4 linked regions of the Homo sapiens genome follow. The protein of the gene in region 3 purifies or fractionates together with the protein of the main gene of each other region. This does not show direct contact. Each region holds a gene or a part of one and is shown on either strand. Other genes may lie near its edges.

Evidence for each region.
Region 1: the proteins of PHF14 (region 3) and CFDP1 fractionate together in Homo sapiens (co-fractionation; one large-scale study listed by BioGRID). This does not show direct contact.
Region 2: the proteins of PHF14 (region 3) and WRAP73 purify together in Homo sapiens (co-immunoprecipitation; one study listed by IntAct). This does not show direct contact.
Region 4: the proteins of PHF14 (region 3) and GON4L purify together in Homo sapiens (affinity purification with mass spectrometry, with the first as the bait; one large-scale study listed by BioGRID). This does not show direct contact.

The regions. Positions count from the first base shown.
Region 1 is NC_000016.10:75,304,504-75,308,003, forward strand, and holds part of CFDP1 (craniofacial development protein 1), read right to left. Parts: intron 680-3,500; coding exon 521-679; intron 1-520. UniProt on the Homo sapiens protein: May play a role during embryogenesis.
Region 2 is NC_000001.11:3,643,604-3,647,103, forward strand, and holds part of WRAP73 (WD repeat-containing protein WRAP73), read right to left. Parts: intron 3,180-3,500; coding exon 3,063-3,179; intron 1-3,062.
Region 3 is NC_000007.14:10,976,872-10,980,371, forward strand, and holds part of PHF14 (PHD finger protein 14), read left to right. Parts: intron 1-3,500. UniProt on the Homo sapiens protein: Histone-binding protein. Binds preferentially to unmodified histone H3 but can also bind to a lesser extent to histone H3 trimethylated at 'Lys-9' (H3K9me3) as well as to histone H3 monomethylated at 'Lys-27' (H3K27ac) and trimethylated at 'Lys-27' (H3K27me3).
Region 4 is NC_000001.11:155,850,715-155,854,214, forward strand, and holds part of GON4L (GON-4-like protein), read right to left. Parts: intron 3,093-3,500; 5' UTR 3,067-3,092; coding exon 2,562-3,066; intron 1-2,561. UniProt on the Homo sapiens protein: Has transcriptional repressor activity, probably as part of a complex with YY1, SIN3A and HDAC1. Required for B cell lymphopoiesis.

The DNA of each region.
Region 1 (3,500 bases), on a different chromosome or scaffold from region 3:
TGGCCTGGGGTGCTGTCTGAGGGCCTGGCCTATCACACAGGCTATAGCCAAGGGTAAAGCCCCACCCCAGGCCATAATGACACAGACAAAAAAAAATTCACAATAATGCAACATCTAGGCATTCCATTGGCTCAGTTTTTGACGGATCTGAACTAGTTTGGTTTCTCAGAAGGACAAATGATTCAGATAAGGCCAAGGCTGCTACCACAGGCCAGATCCAACCACTAGGCAACTTACAGTTCACTGGAGCTGTAATTCAGCAAATTCAGCTTGGCAGATGTGACTGGCCCCTGAGAGTACTCCTCACATGCCCCGCCTTCCCTCCACCCGCAGTGGCCTTCCCAGTGACAGGCCCTGCCCCACACTGGAACAGAGACTTACTGACAAACCAAAGTGCTCACATTTTTAGTTCCATCATGAAAAGCTCCTGCTTGCTTACAGTGGGCAGTTTGTCTCCAATAAATCATTTGATTTCAGGGTTCTGAGGATTTTCCAAGGCATAAAACCTACTCCTTCTTACCCCTCTTTCCCTCGATTATGGATGGCCAGTTCTTCACCAATCCCCTCTTCCTCCTTGAAGCTCTCCCAGTCCAGTTTGGACTTCTCAAGGGTGCTCATTTTCTGCTTCTTGGCACCAATTTTCCCCAAAAGGCTGCTCATGCCACTTGATCTTTTTAACCTAAGGAAAGAAAATATGAAAGATGTAGCAGGTAAAAACTCTGATCTCTATATTAACAGTTTTTCTGATGCAAATGGGAATCCCCTAGATTGGGGCCATTTATCTTAGTGGAAGCCATGTTCATATTTGGGGCATTTCCTTCCTGGTGTGGAGAGCACTGTAAGTAAACTGGAATTCTAATGTGCTTTTCCTGCTTAACACCACTGTCTGCTCTCCTGAGCTACGAACAGGAAATCCTGCCTTCTTCAGACCTCTGTGGGCTCTGTGTGGCAGGTCTCTGCTTGCAAGGAGGGGAGGAGCAGCGCTTCAGGCAGGGCTTTGGAGTCACATGCCAAGGTCCAACTTCCAGCTTAACTGTGTGACTCTAGGCCAGTTATTTACTGCATGTTCCTTGGTTTCCTAATCTACAAAGCAAATGCTTACTCACAGGCTGTGGTGTATCTTACACGTAAAGGGCTAAAACAGCACTTGGCACAGCGTCAAGGTGCAATAAGCATGAGCCACTCTGAGTCACTGTCATCGTTTAAGCTTAAAGCCCCAGGGGGTTCTTTTAAGAGAAAGAGAACCAGTTCCCAACACTGATGAGTGAAAAGTCACAGTACTGTAAGAGGGTTCTAAAATCAGTTTCCTTTTAACTCCTGTGAGTTGGGCCCTGTTTTTTCCAGGAGGTGGAGAACATTCCTCACTCCGAAAGCTCACACGGGGAATGTACAGCCTGTGCTCCACTTGCTGGTGATGCTATCATGGACAGTGGGAGAAACCCCAGATGCCCAAATTCAAGTCTTGGCAGGTCAAATGTTTCCAGTCATTGTTAAACATATGAAATAAAATAAGAAAAGCAAAATGCAGTTAAGATGGTATGAGGAAAGGTTTGGTCTCTTTATGAAATGAAACGAAATCATCTACCAGCATGTAGGAACTTGGAAGTTATTTTCCGCCTCACGGGGATATGCAAGAAAGTTAAACATTTAAAAACTATGAGCTAATGTCACATGGTCTACTGATAATAATACCTTTACTTGTCTAGAATGTTTGTTCTCCAAGTGCTTTTGTAGCCATGATCTCATCTAACTCTCACTAAGGCCTGTGACACAGGACCCAGTCTCAGAGTTGGAAGGGATCATCTTTGAAATAACCTAGTATCACCCTAACCCATTCTGAAACCCCACGTCCCTGCCGCAAAGCAGCGTGAACGACTACTCACCCCCTCTGCCTGGTGTGAGCCAACAGGCCAACGTCCACACTGAACACCAGACTGCTGGGACTGAACAATGACCCTGAACATTCTCATTCTATTAACTTTAGTAGAGAGGATGTCAACTTCCCTGTTTGGGTCACACCCCAGTACATGCTGAGCTTAAGATCAACTCAGAATGGGCTGGGCAAGCTTCATCATCCTTGTATTAAGTTGGACAAATAAACAAAGTTCAGAGAGGTTAAATGATAAAACAAGGGTCAAAACAATAGACAATGCAGATCCGGGACAAAGGAAGATCTCTCCCAACTCTCAGGGTGGTGCACTGTGCTATCTCGCCTCCAGATGAGAAGTGACTTGAGAGATTTTCTCATTAGTTACTTTACTTCCCAGTTTGCTTAAGAGAACTCCAAATAGCTCTTTATGAGCTTTCAATTCATATCTTCTAAGCACTGTTTTCCAGACAACTCAACCCCTACAATGTCATATGTGCGCGTGATCACACACACACACACACACACACACGCACACACACACACTTTCTTTTTCACCATTTTACCAGGAACGGAGCATGAGTGGGGATATGGAAACTTACTGTGTCTCAAATCTTTTTCCTTCTCATCTTCCTTACTGCTACTGCCCGAATTCTCATTCTTATATCACCTGGATAATTGAACAGCCTCTTTACTGGTCTCCCTGACCTGTTTTTCCCCATCCTCACTCAGTGGCCCTATCCTGGTATCTAGTGACATGCTGTAATTAGACTGAATTTTCCAAAACACAAAGCTTAGCATGTCTTTCTGCTTAAATGTCTCTTCACTGACCCCTTTTTATTTTTATTTATTTTTATTTTTTGAGACGGAGTTTCTCTCTTGTTGCCCAGGCTGGAGTGCAGATGCGTGATCTCGGCTCACTGCAACCTCCGCCTCCCGGGTTCAAGCGATTCTCCTGTCTCAGCCTCCCAAGTAGCTGGGATTACAGGCGCCTGCCACCACACCTGGCTAATTTTTTGTATTTTTAGTAGAGACGGGGTTTTGCCATGTTGGGCAGGCTGGTCTCAAACTCCTGACCTCGGGTGATCTGCCCACCTCGGCCCCCCAAAGTGCTGGGATTACAGGTGTGAGCCACTGCGCCCAGGCCCACTGACCCCTTTTTAAAACATAATAATTAAAATAAATTTTTATGTATTTACTTTTTTAGAGACAGGTTCTCACTCTGTTACCCAGGCTAGAGTACACCAGTGAAACCACAGCTTACTACAGCCTCAACCTCCCTGGGTCAAGTGATCCTCCCACCTCAGTCTCCTGAGGTGCAGAGACTACAGGTGTGTGCCACCACGTTCAACTATCTTTTTTATGTTTTGTAGAGACAGGGTCTTGCTATGTTGCCCAAGGCTGGTATCAAACTCTTGGACTCAAGCAATCCTCCTGCCTTGGCCTCCCGAAGTACTGGGATTATAGGCACAAGCCACCATATTAAGCCTTATCTCAGCTTTAAAACCACTTCCTCCAGGAAGCCTTCCCTAACCTCTAGATTAGGTGTCCCTGGTGGTATTTCTATCATACCAGTTCTTTTCATATGGGAACACTGATCTTTTCTTTAGATGCTTGTGAACTCTTATTTCAG
Region 2 (3,500 bases), on a different chromosome or scaffold from region 3:
CCAGCGGCCCCGCTGAGCCCCGGACATGGGGTCGCGCCTTCGGAAGGGGACCCAGCGGCCCCGCTGAGCCCCGGACATGGGGTCGCGCCTTCGGAAGGGGACCCAGCGGCCCCGCTGAGCCCCGGACATGGGGTCGCGCCTTCGGAAGGGGACCCAGCGGCCCCGCTGAGCCCCGGACATGGGGTCGCGCCTTCGGAAGGGGACCCAGCGGCCCCGCTGAGCCCCGGACATGGGGTCGCGCCTTCGGAAGGGGACCCAGCGGCCCCGCTGAGCCCCGGACATGGGGTCGCGCCTTCGGAAGGGGACCCAGCGGCCCCGCTGAGCCCCGGACATGGGGTCGCGCCTTCGGAAGGGGACCCAGCGGCCCCGCTGAGCCCCGGACATGGGGTCGCGCCTTCGGAAGGGGACCCAGCGGCCCCGCTGAGCCCCGGACATGGGGTCGCGCCTTCGGAAGGGGACCCAGCGGCCCCGCTGAGCCCCGGACATGGGGTCGCGCCTTCGGAAGGGGACCCAGCGGCCCCGCTGAGCCCCGGACATGGGGTCGCGCCTTCGGAAGGGGACCCAGCGGCCCCGCTGAGCCCCGGACATGGGGTCGCGCCTTCGGAAGGGGACCCAGCGGCCCCGCTGAGCCCCGGACATGGGGTCGCGCCTTCGGAAGGGGACCCAGCGGCCCCGCTGAGCCCCGGACATGGGGTCGCGCCTTCGGAAGGGGACCCAGCGGCCCCGCTGAGCCCCGGACATGGGGTCGCGCCTTCGGAAGGGGATCCAGTGGCCCCGCTGAGCCCCGGACATGGGGTCGCGCCTTCAGAAGGGGACCTAGTGGCCCCGCTAATCCTCGAACGGGTCTGGTCCTTGCTCTTGTGAATGAGACTGATGGACGGTGCCCGCAGCTCACTTCCTGGCCAGCACGTCTGGAATTCCGGTTTTGTTTCCTCACTTGCAACCATTAAAGTTCGCATGCAAAGCTGGAGACACATTTTGACATCTTGGTCAAGATGCCCCATGCCTTGAGGTTACCGGTCCTCATCCACCACCTGGTCTTAACGTTTCCTCTAAGGCCACCAGCAAAGTGGTCATGACCTTAGTCTTAGGTTGAACAATGTCATCTAAATGTACTCTATGAAAAATCAGTTTGTTCTGTAGCAAAGGTGTTTTCAATATTGGTGTGTGTGACATGGGATGCTCAACAAAACCAGGCTTTTATCCATCTTTTAAGGTTTCTAAACTCTATAGATGGTAGTTTTCCTTCTGGGCCATTTAATAAGATAATACAACAAGGCTGACCCCATGACATGAGCCCTTCTCAAGGGCAGATTTGGGCCCAAAGCATTACAGGCCTGAAGACTGTTAGACACGGCTGCGTGAAAAGCTCAAATTATCCTCTCTGAAACACTCAGGCCGAAAGTGCCTTCCAATGTCAATACATAGTGCGGAGACATTGGTGGGCCTTTGTTTCCTGTCTTATTCTCTGACAGCCCATAATAGCAGACATTAGATTTGGAGTATTTTTTAAAATCGAAACTGAAAAATATGTAAAGCCATCCAGCCATCTGAAGCAGTTGATTCAGCAACCCTCATGGCTGGATAAAACTTTATCCCAGCCGATGCCAGCTTGAAAAAAGCCGAATGAAACCCTACAGAGCATCTGCAGCCACACGCTGGGAGAAATCCTCCCAGGTGCCATCATCTACGTGGTGTGCGCGGCGCAGCGGGACGGGAGGGCTGCAGTGTGGTGTGAGCGGCGCAGCGGGATGGGCGGGTTGCCCCGTGGTGTGCGTGGCGCAGCGGGACGGGCGGGTTGCCCCGTGGTGTGCGCGGCGCAGCGGGACGGGCGGGTTGCCCCGTGGTGTGCGCCGTGCAGCGGGACGGGCGGGTTGCCCCGTGGTGTGCGCGGCGCAGCGGGATGGGCGGGTTGCCCCGTGGTGTGCGCGGCGCAGCGGGATGGGCGGGTTACCGAGGTGCAGCCAGCAGCCCAGACAGCTATGAGCACTCAGTGGACTTGGGCCCAAACACTGGGATCCAACTCCATCAGAAAAGCACATTATTAAAGGAATTCGTCCATTTTTCTGTATCTTAAAAAGACACTGCGGACACCAAAGACCTGGTATCTAAACACTTGACATATGCCTAATTTTAACTTAAAATGCAGTCTCCTATCCCAGATCCCTCTGATTTATTCTCGGATGTCAACATTCCCCTCCGCGCTGAGCTCAGCACGGAGGCTGTTGTGCGGTACCTACAGCAGGTGAATGGGCGGCTGCCGACCGCCCCGAGCCACGCCCCCAGGCCAGGCTCCTGAAGGAAAGGTGCGAGCCGGCTCATATCACAGCGCATTTTCTATCGTTGAATTAAAGGGAGTGCCGAAATCCTAAAAAATCTAAATTAAGATTTTTAAAATGTTTTTTCTTCAAAACTGGACAAAAGATCAGACAATAATACTTAGTGGCTTATAATGCTCTGACCTAAAATATACACACCACTATATACGCTCCCCGGCTCCCTCCAACCCCGCCAATCTACCAGCCACTCGGGAGCCACCTCAGTCATCAGACCCAGGGCAGCAGACAGTGCCTGTGTTCACGACACCCTTATCTGACTCAGTAGCAGCCCAAAGCACGGGCGGTGGGGCTCGCAATCTGGATACGCCAAAGAGAAGCCACAAAGTGCTTCCTTTAAATGACGAGCTGAAAGTTCTTGACGCAACAAGGAAAGAAAAAATCCTATGCTGAGGTTGTTGCTCAGATCTTCAGTAAGACCAAATCTTCTATCCATGCAATTATAAACAGTATATTGTTATCCTTGTTCTATACTATGATTGTTGCTAATCTCTTACTGTATCTAATTTATAAATTAAATGTATCACAGGTATGCTGTATAGGAAAAAACACAGGAAATACAGGGTTTGGTACAATCTGAATCCCCTGGTGGTCTTAGAATGCATCCCCTGAGGATAAGGGGAGACTAGCATACTCCAAACACACCCCCTCTCGCACTCCCCAGCTGTTTCGAGAGCAGAGGACAGGATCACATGGCCAGTAAGGTGTCTTGGGGCTGACACTTACATGGAATTCCGTGGTGTTGAGAATGTGGCGCCCGTCCGGGCTCCAGCACGAGGCCACCAGCCCGGCTGAGCCCTCGTCTATTTTGCAGTGCCATTCGGGCTGCTCTAAAGACCAGACCTGGATTGAGAGAAGAAAGAAACACACAAGTGCAAACTCATCAGCACCGAGAGACAGCGAGGACAGCTCGCTTAAACGCAGCGGAGACCCGACCGCACAGGGTGTCTTCAAACTCATCAGCAGTCTATAGCGAGGCCTCGCCGAGAGACAACTCCCTTAAAACCAGCAGAGACCCGATCACACAGGGTGTCTTTTAGAACCTTTCATGATGAAGGGCTGGTGCTGGATTCCAGTGTAAAAGTAAGCCACGCTTCTTGGTGATTTCATTTCGTTGTTGTTTTAAAACTGTTTATTCACATTGTCATTCCTAAGACCTCATTT
Region 3 (3,500 bases):
CCCCTGGGGAGCTTAAATTTGTGATCTGTGGTCTCAGGTCACAAATTTGTATGTATAGTTCTTGGTATTTATTGTAAAAGGGAATTTAGAAGAAAATGATTGTATTTAAAATGATTAGTAGTCAACAGAAATTGAATCATATTTTTGACTCTTGTTTTAGGTGCATTGATGCTCTGCATAGCTGAGATATTCGCTTACTCTAGATTACCATTGTTTTCCATTTGAATCTTTTCTGTGCCTGAGATAGTATATATTTAGTTGGAGTCTTGTAGAGAATAAGACATTAGTCCTATCACTGGTTTCCAAACATGTTGAAGTTGTGGATTCCCAGCCCTACTTACGAATAGGAGATTAAATTGGAAGTAGAGAAATGGTAGCTAAACATCTGTCTGATCATATCTTCTTTCAAAACAACTTCTAGAAATGACTCATTGAATGAACTACGGACTTCCTTAGAACTTAATATTAAAGTGGTTAGATTCGTTGGCCTTAATTTTGGCTAACTGGATTCCGTGGATCAATTTCTTCTTACCTTCATCTTGAAATCTGAAATTCTGACTATAAAACTTTTTATATTTCTGTTTGGTTTTAAGAATAAATATAGAAAACATTTGCAGATAAACATAATTTAACTCTATCATAAAATAGAAACAAATCAACATTGGTAAAGAATGACCCACCCATAAGATTGGCAAGTGATTACGAGCCTGTACCTTTAGAAAATTATGAAACTGAAGATAGTTTATATTTTATTTTTAATGCAAAAGCAAAAGTAAGCTTCTCATTTTTGATTGAAAGCAGTCAATAAAGTTTGAAATGAGTAAGTCCTAAAATAGGATATATATGCATTATTAGAATTATGGTGATAACCACCAGAAGAACCATATGTAGAAATGTTAGGTTGAACTATATGGAATTACCAGTTTTGTAGGTCCAAAACACACAGTCAAATATTAGCAATTTCATGGTTTTACCTAGTTAAAGTGTTGATATTTGAGACTTGGGCATAGGGTTGGGTGTATGATAGGAGACTTATTTACATTTGGTTATCTGCTACATTAATTGAATGTTTTAAAGAATGTTTACATCTTTTTAAAGATGCAGACATGTATTACTTCTATTAACCAGACAGATTAGCCATGCTCTCTACCCCTATCCCCCACCAGGCAAAGTAAAATGGGGTTAACTTTAGATCTTGATCAAAAGTTAGTTTAGTTAGGCCATATTGCCAGGAAATAATTTAATGAGAAGTGTCAGCCTGAGACTTTGGTGGTATTTTGTGCTTAATCTGACTTTGAATAAGTGGACCAAGATGTGTTCATTGATTGTCCGTAGTTTAGCCCTTTGCTAGATGTTATGGTGAATTTACAAAACAGTAGTAATAATATTAGAATAAGTAAGTAAAATAACATGTAAGTAAAATAAAAATTAGAATAATTAAATAAAATAGTTGATACAAAGGATGGTTGATCACTTGTGTAGTTCAAGTCTTTAATAGGAAATGAGATTAGATTGATGTAGAACAATTTCATTGAGGAGAGGAGGTAAGAGTGGAACTATGAACAGAAGGATTTAGATAAACAGCAATCTTGGTGAGGCAAAAATTAAAAGTGTTGAGACTTGGAATTGTTTTTTTATATTTGGGGATCAGTGTTGAGTAAAAGTAGAAGAGATAAGCCTGGAAAAATAGAATAAGGTCAAATTGTGGCTGTATATACGAGTTAATGGTTTCTCAACCTTGGCGCTATTGGCATTTTGTGTTGGATAATTTTTTGTTGTGGAGGCTTGTCCTGTACCCAGTAGGATGTTTAGCAACAACAACCTTTTCCTCTACTAGATGCCAGTAGCATCTTTCCTACCTGCCCCAGCCTCACCTCCACCTCCACTTCCACTGTTGTGGCAACTATTGTTTCCAGACATTGCCAGTTGTCCTCTGGGGGAAAAAAATGTTCCCGTTTGAGTACCACTGGCTCATACAAACCAAGATGACATAGCTGGAACTAGAATCGGAAGTGGAGGATGAGTTGTGTTGACTGATTGGCTGTCTTCAAGACATATACGGTTTTGGTCAAACATAGCCCTGGGATAGCTGTAAATAACTAGTAGAATAGTGATTGATCTGTTATCTATTGTGTATATTTATAGTACTAACACTGTTGTACCAGATCAATGAACAGAATTAGATTGATGAAATTGATGAACAAATTTATATTGCATATATTGTATATTAGCATAAAACTAAATTAAATCATATTGATTTTGTTATGGGGAGAACATTGGATATAATGGTATTGATGGTTGATATTAATTAAATTAATTTTTATTTTATTATTTGATATTGTAAAGGGATTCTTGAAGGTTGGTGTTTTAAATTCTAATTTTAAAATTTATTTTATTTTTTTGTCTGGCCATTACCACTCAGAGGAGTTTTTAAAAATTCTGTAATGGTAAAAAATTTCTTAACTGTCTGTTAGTTGAAATAGCTGTTGCTTGGAGAGATTCTGATATATTGTATGTTTGAGAAAGGTTATCTTTTATTTAACCAAATGGGAAGTAGGATTTCAATTTTAAAGATATATTTTTTTCAAACGTAAGAAAGGTTTATTGTAGACTTGAAATTAACTCTTTCTGCCTAAGATAATTTCTCCAGTATATTTCTTTTTTTCCTTTCCTTTCTCTCTCTTTTTTTTTTTTTTTTGGAACATAGCACAGAGTCATTCTTTGATGACTAGGAAATTTTGTCTTTGCAGCCTATGGAAAAAATAGCCAAGGGCCTTGATTTTTCTCATTGTCATTATTACCCAGCTATGGTTGTAAATAAATATGGTTTATCTCCATTCCTCCAGTGCATATGTACAAAAAAGAAATAGTGACTAATTAGATGAAGAAGTTATTTTTCAGATATCAGAGAAAGATAAGATTTGATGTATTGCTGATCCCTATAGAAAGATAAAATTTGATATATTGCTGATCCCTGTAGTTGGAGTCTGACTAATGTACTATATTTGGAGAATGAGGGGTTGGGTAAGCTATTAGGAGTTGGTTTTGTGGAAAAATGTCCATTCTTCTAATAATAGTTAACAAACATAAAACATTAAAAATTTTTTAAAAAATTGCTTTCTATTCAGGCATGGTTATAAATCAAAAACAGAATCAAGGAGTCTCAATTTACCTCTCATTTGAAAAAATAATTAATTAATTGGCATTGGCAACTACCAAAACAAAATCACAAAAATCTCTGACATTTTGTAAAATTTACCAAGTAATAGCAAAGTTGGATTGGTCTCAATTTTGATCAGCTACCCACACTTCTGCCCCAGTTAATCTTACTTTTGCGTCTATCGTGAAGTTTTGATTGATAAAAAGCCTTCTAGAAGGTTGATCCAGAAGAAAAGTACCTTTTCTTTCATCTTCATCTCCTAGCTCTCTTAATTATGGCATTGCTTCCCTTCTAGAGCCTAAGGTGTTTCAGTTTTCTTTAGTCAGTGTGCATAAAAAAT
Region 4 (3,500 bases), on a different chromosome or scaffold from region 3:
GGACTTAAAATGCGGCAAAAAAGAAAACATCTTAACAGTCAAAATGAATGAATAGGCCGGGTGCAGTGGTTCACGCCTGTAATCCTAGCACTTTGGGAGGCCGAGGTCGGTGGATCACGAGGTCAGGAGTTCGAGACCAGCGTGGCCAGCATGGTGAAACCCTGTCTCAACTAAAATACAAAAAAAAAAAAAATTAGCTGAGCGTGGCAGCGTGTGCCTGTAGTCCTAGCTACTTGGGAGGCTGAGGCAGAATTGCTTGAACCTGGGAGGCGGAGGTTGCAGTGAGATGAGATCGTGCCACTGCACTCCAGCCTGGCAACAGAGCGAGACTCCACCTCAAAAAAAAAAAAAAAAAAAGGGCCGGGCGCGGTGGCACACGCCTGTAATCCCAGCACTTTGGGAGGACGAGGCAGGTGGATCACGAGGTCATGAAATTGACACTATCCTGGCTAACACGGTAAAACCCCGTCTCTACTAAAAATACAAAAAATTAGCTGGGCATGGTGGCAGACACCTGTAGTCCCAGCTACTCGGGAGGCTGAGGCAGGAGAATGGCATGAACCCAGGAGGCAGAGCTTGCAGTGAGCCAAGACTGCGCCACTGCACTCCAGCCTGGGCGACAGAGCCAGACTACGTCTCAAAAAAAAAAAATGACTATCACCTACCTACAGGAAAAGCTCAAATGCCTTAGTATGAAAAACAAAAACCTTCACAATCTAGGCCGGGCGCAGTGGCTCACGCCTGTAATCCCAGCACTTTGGGAGGCTGAGGCAGGTGGGTTACCTGAGGTCAGGAGTTCAGGACCAAGCTGGCTAACCTGGTGAAACCCCATCTCCACTAAAAATACAAAAATTAGCTGAGCACGGTGGCGGGCGCCTGTAATACCAGCTACTCAGGAGGCTGAGGCAGGAGAATCACTTGAACAGGGGAGGTGGAGGTTGCAGTGAGCTGAGATCACGCCACTGTACTCCAGCCTGGGCGACAAAGCGAGACTCCGTATCAAAAAAAAAATGAATAAGAGAAGTTGGTATCTTTTCTAAAGCATAAATGTGTTCTACTTAGACGTTTAAATGACTATCACCTACCTACAGGAAAAGCTCAAATGCCTTGGTATGAAAAACAAAACCTTTCACAACCTTAGTACAATCTACTACTCTAAAGTCATCTTGGCAGGGCGTGGTGGCTCACGCCTGTAATCCCAGCACTTTGGGAGGCCAAGGTACGTGGATCACCTGAGGTCAGGAGTTTGAGACCAGCCTGGCCAACATGGGGAAACCTCCTCTCTAATAAAAATAAAAAAATTAGCTGGACGTGGTGGCAGGCACCTGTAATCCCAGCTACTCGCGAGGCTGAAGCAGGGGAATCACTTGAACATGGGAGGTGGAGGTTGCAGTGAGCCAAGATCACACCACTGCACTCCAGCCTGGGCAACAGAGCGAGACTGTCACAAAAAAAAAAAAAAAAAAAAAAGAAGTCATCTCCCACCACCTGTTCCAAGCAACCATGTCACCATCCTTTTCTGCCAGTCTATCTCTGTGCACTGTTCTTGGCCTATGTGCCCATACCACTTTCTGTTAAACCGCAATTCATCTTTCAAATTGGAAGGGTCATTCATCTCAGTAGAGCCTTTCCCAGTGTCCCAGGCAGTAGTCTCCCCCTTTAAGCTGCTGCCCAATCACAAAAGACCATACACATCTCCAGACACACCAAATAAAGGATGAGAGAATGGAATGAAAGGGATACAATGGCTGGGTGCAGTGGCTCACGCTTGTAATCCAGCACTTTGGGAGGCCAAGGCGGGCGGATCACGAGGTCAGGAGACTGAGACCATCCTGGCTAACACAGTGAAACCCCGCCTCTACTAAAAATACAAAAAAAATTGGCCGGGCATGGTGGTGGGTGCCTGTAGTCCCAGCTACTCGGGAGGCTGAGGCAGGAGAATGGCGTGAACCTGGGAGGCGGAGCTTGCAGTGAGCCGAGACCACGCCACTGCACCCTGGCCTGGGTGACAGAGCGAGACTCCGTCTCAAAAAAGAAAGAAGAAAGGGGTACAGAAGTGGATATAGCGAATGGGAGGGGAAAAGAAAGTCTATATCCATTCATAAAGTTCACTGCTGGCCAGGCACGGTGGCTCACACCTGTAATCCCAGCACTTTGGGAGGCCAAGGCAAACGTATCACCTGAGGTCAGGAGTTCGAGACCAGCTTGACCAACATGGTGAAACCCCGTCTCTGGTAAAAATACAAAATTAGCCTGGCGTGGTGGCGCATGCCTGTAATCCTAGATACTTGAGAGACTGAGGCAGGAGAATCGCTTGAACCCAGGAGGTGGAGGCTGCAGTGAGTCAAGATCCCACCATTGCACTCTAGTCTGGTGACATGGCAAGACTCCGTCTCAAGAAAAAAAAAAAGTTCACTGTTGACCCTTAGCAACACAGCAGTTCCAATTCCGTACCAAATCAATATCCCCTTTCAGAAATACTACTCTGTAAAGGTATCCAGAAATAGCAATGGCAAAGTGGTATTGACAAGAATGTAACCTAGAGACCTTGTATACCTTACCTCCTTCTTCCTTGACTTCTTCACTAGGCTCTCCTGAAAAAGGCTCCTTTAGGGTAAGATGATCACATCTGTCTTCTTGGGTAACTGGCCCAGGCCTGAGTGTCATTTTTTTCCCTCTCTTTGAGCCAGTAGCGTGGAGTTTTCCTTTACCAATGTGTATATTAAGGGGGTGAAAAGACTCCAAGGAAGGTAGGGTGATTCCCTGAGAGATGGCCACATCAACACCTTCTAGAATTGGTACATTTGTGTTCTGGGTGAGCATTCCAGAGCTCAGAGATGTATCCTCCATACCAAGCTGATTTCCTGCATCCTGCAAAGACTGTACTTCGAAGCCAGCTACTCTGCCATGACTTGGATCCCAGGATAGTGACACCGAACTCAAGTCCTTAACCTGGTCAGATTCTGGTTTAACGGCTGATTCTAGGTCTACGTTGTTTTCCTCTTGATTGCCTTTATGCTGTAGGGACTCTGTCACTGTAGTTCTTCTCTTCTTACAGGGCAACATTTTAAAAGTCCCACTTTTGTTCCATTCTGAAAGAATAAAAAGTTCTTACTGCCTTCATATTAATTAAAAGTAATAACATTTACTCAATTATCTTTTCATTTATTCATGTTCGATCATGAACACAATACTTCACACCAAATGCACAATTTCCCTTTAGGTGGAAGTTGAGAGACAGTGGTTAAGTGACTGAGTTCAAATCTCAACTCTACTGATTACTACTGATGGACTACTGTTACCTAGGCCAAGTGATTTAACCTCGCAAGTCTTCAGTACCCTCAACAGTAAAAAATAATTGCTCTTACTTCATAGAATTGTTACAATTAAAGAGTAAGTGATTAATAAACACTGTGGGTTTATTTTTGTGTTTTTTTGTTTTTGTTTTTGTTTTTGAGACAGAGTCTCACTCTGTCTCCCAGGCTGGAGTACAGTGGCGC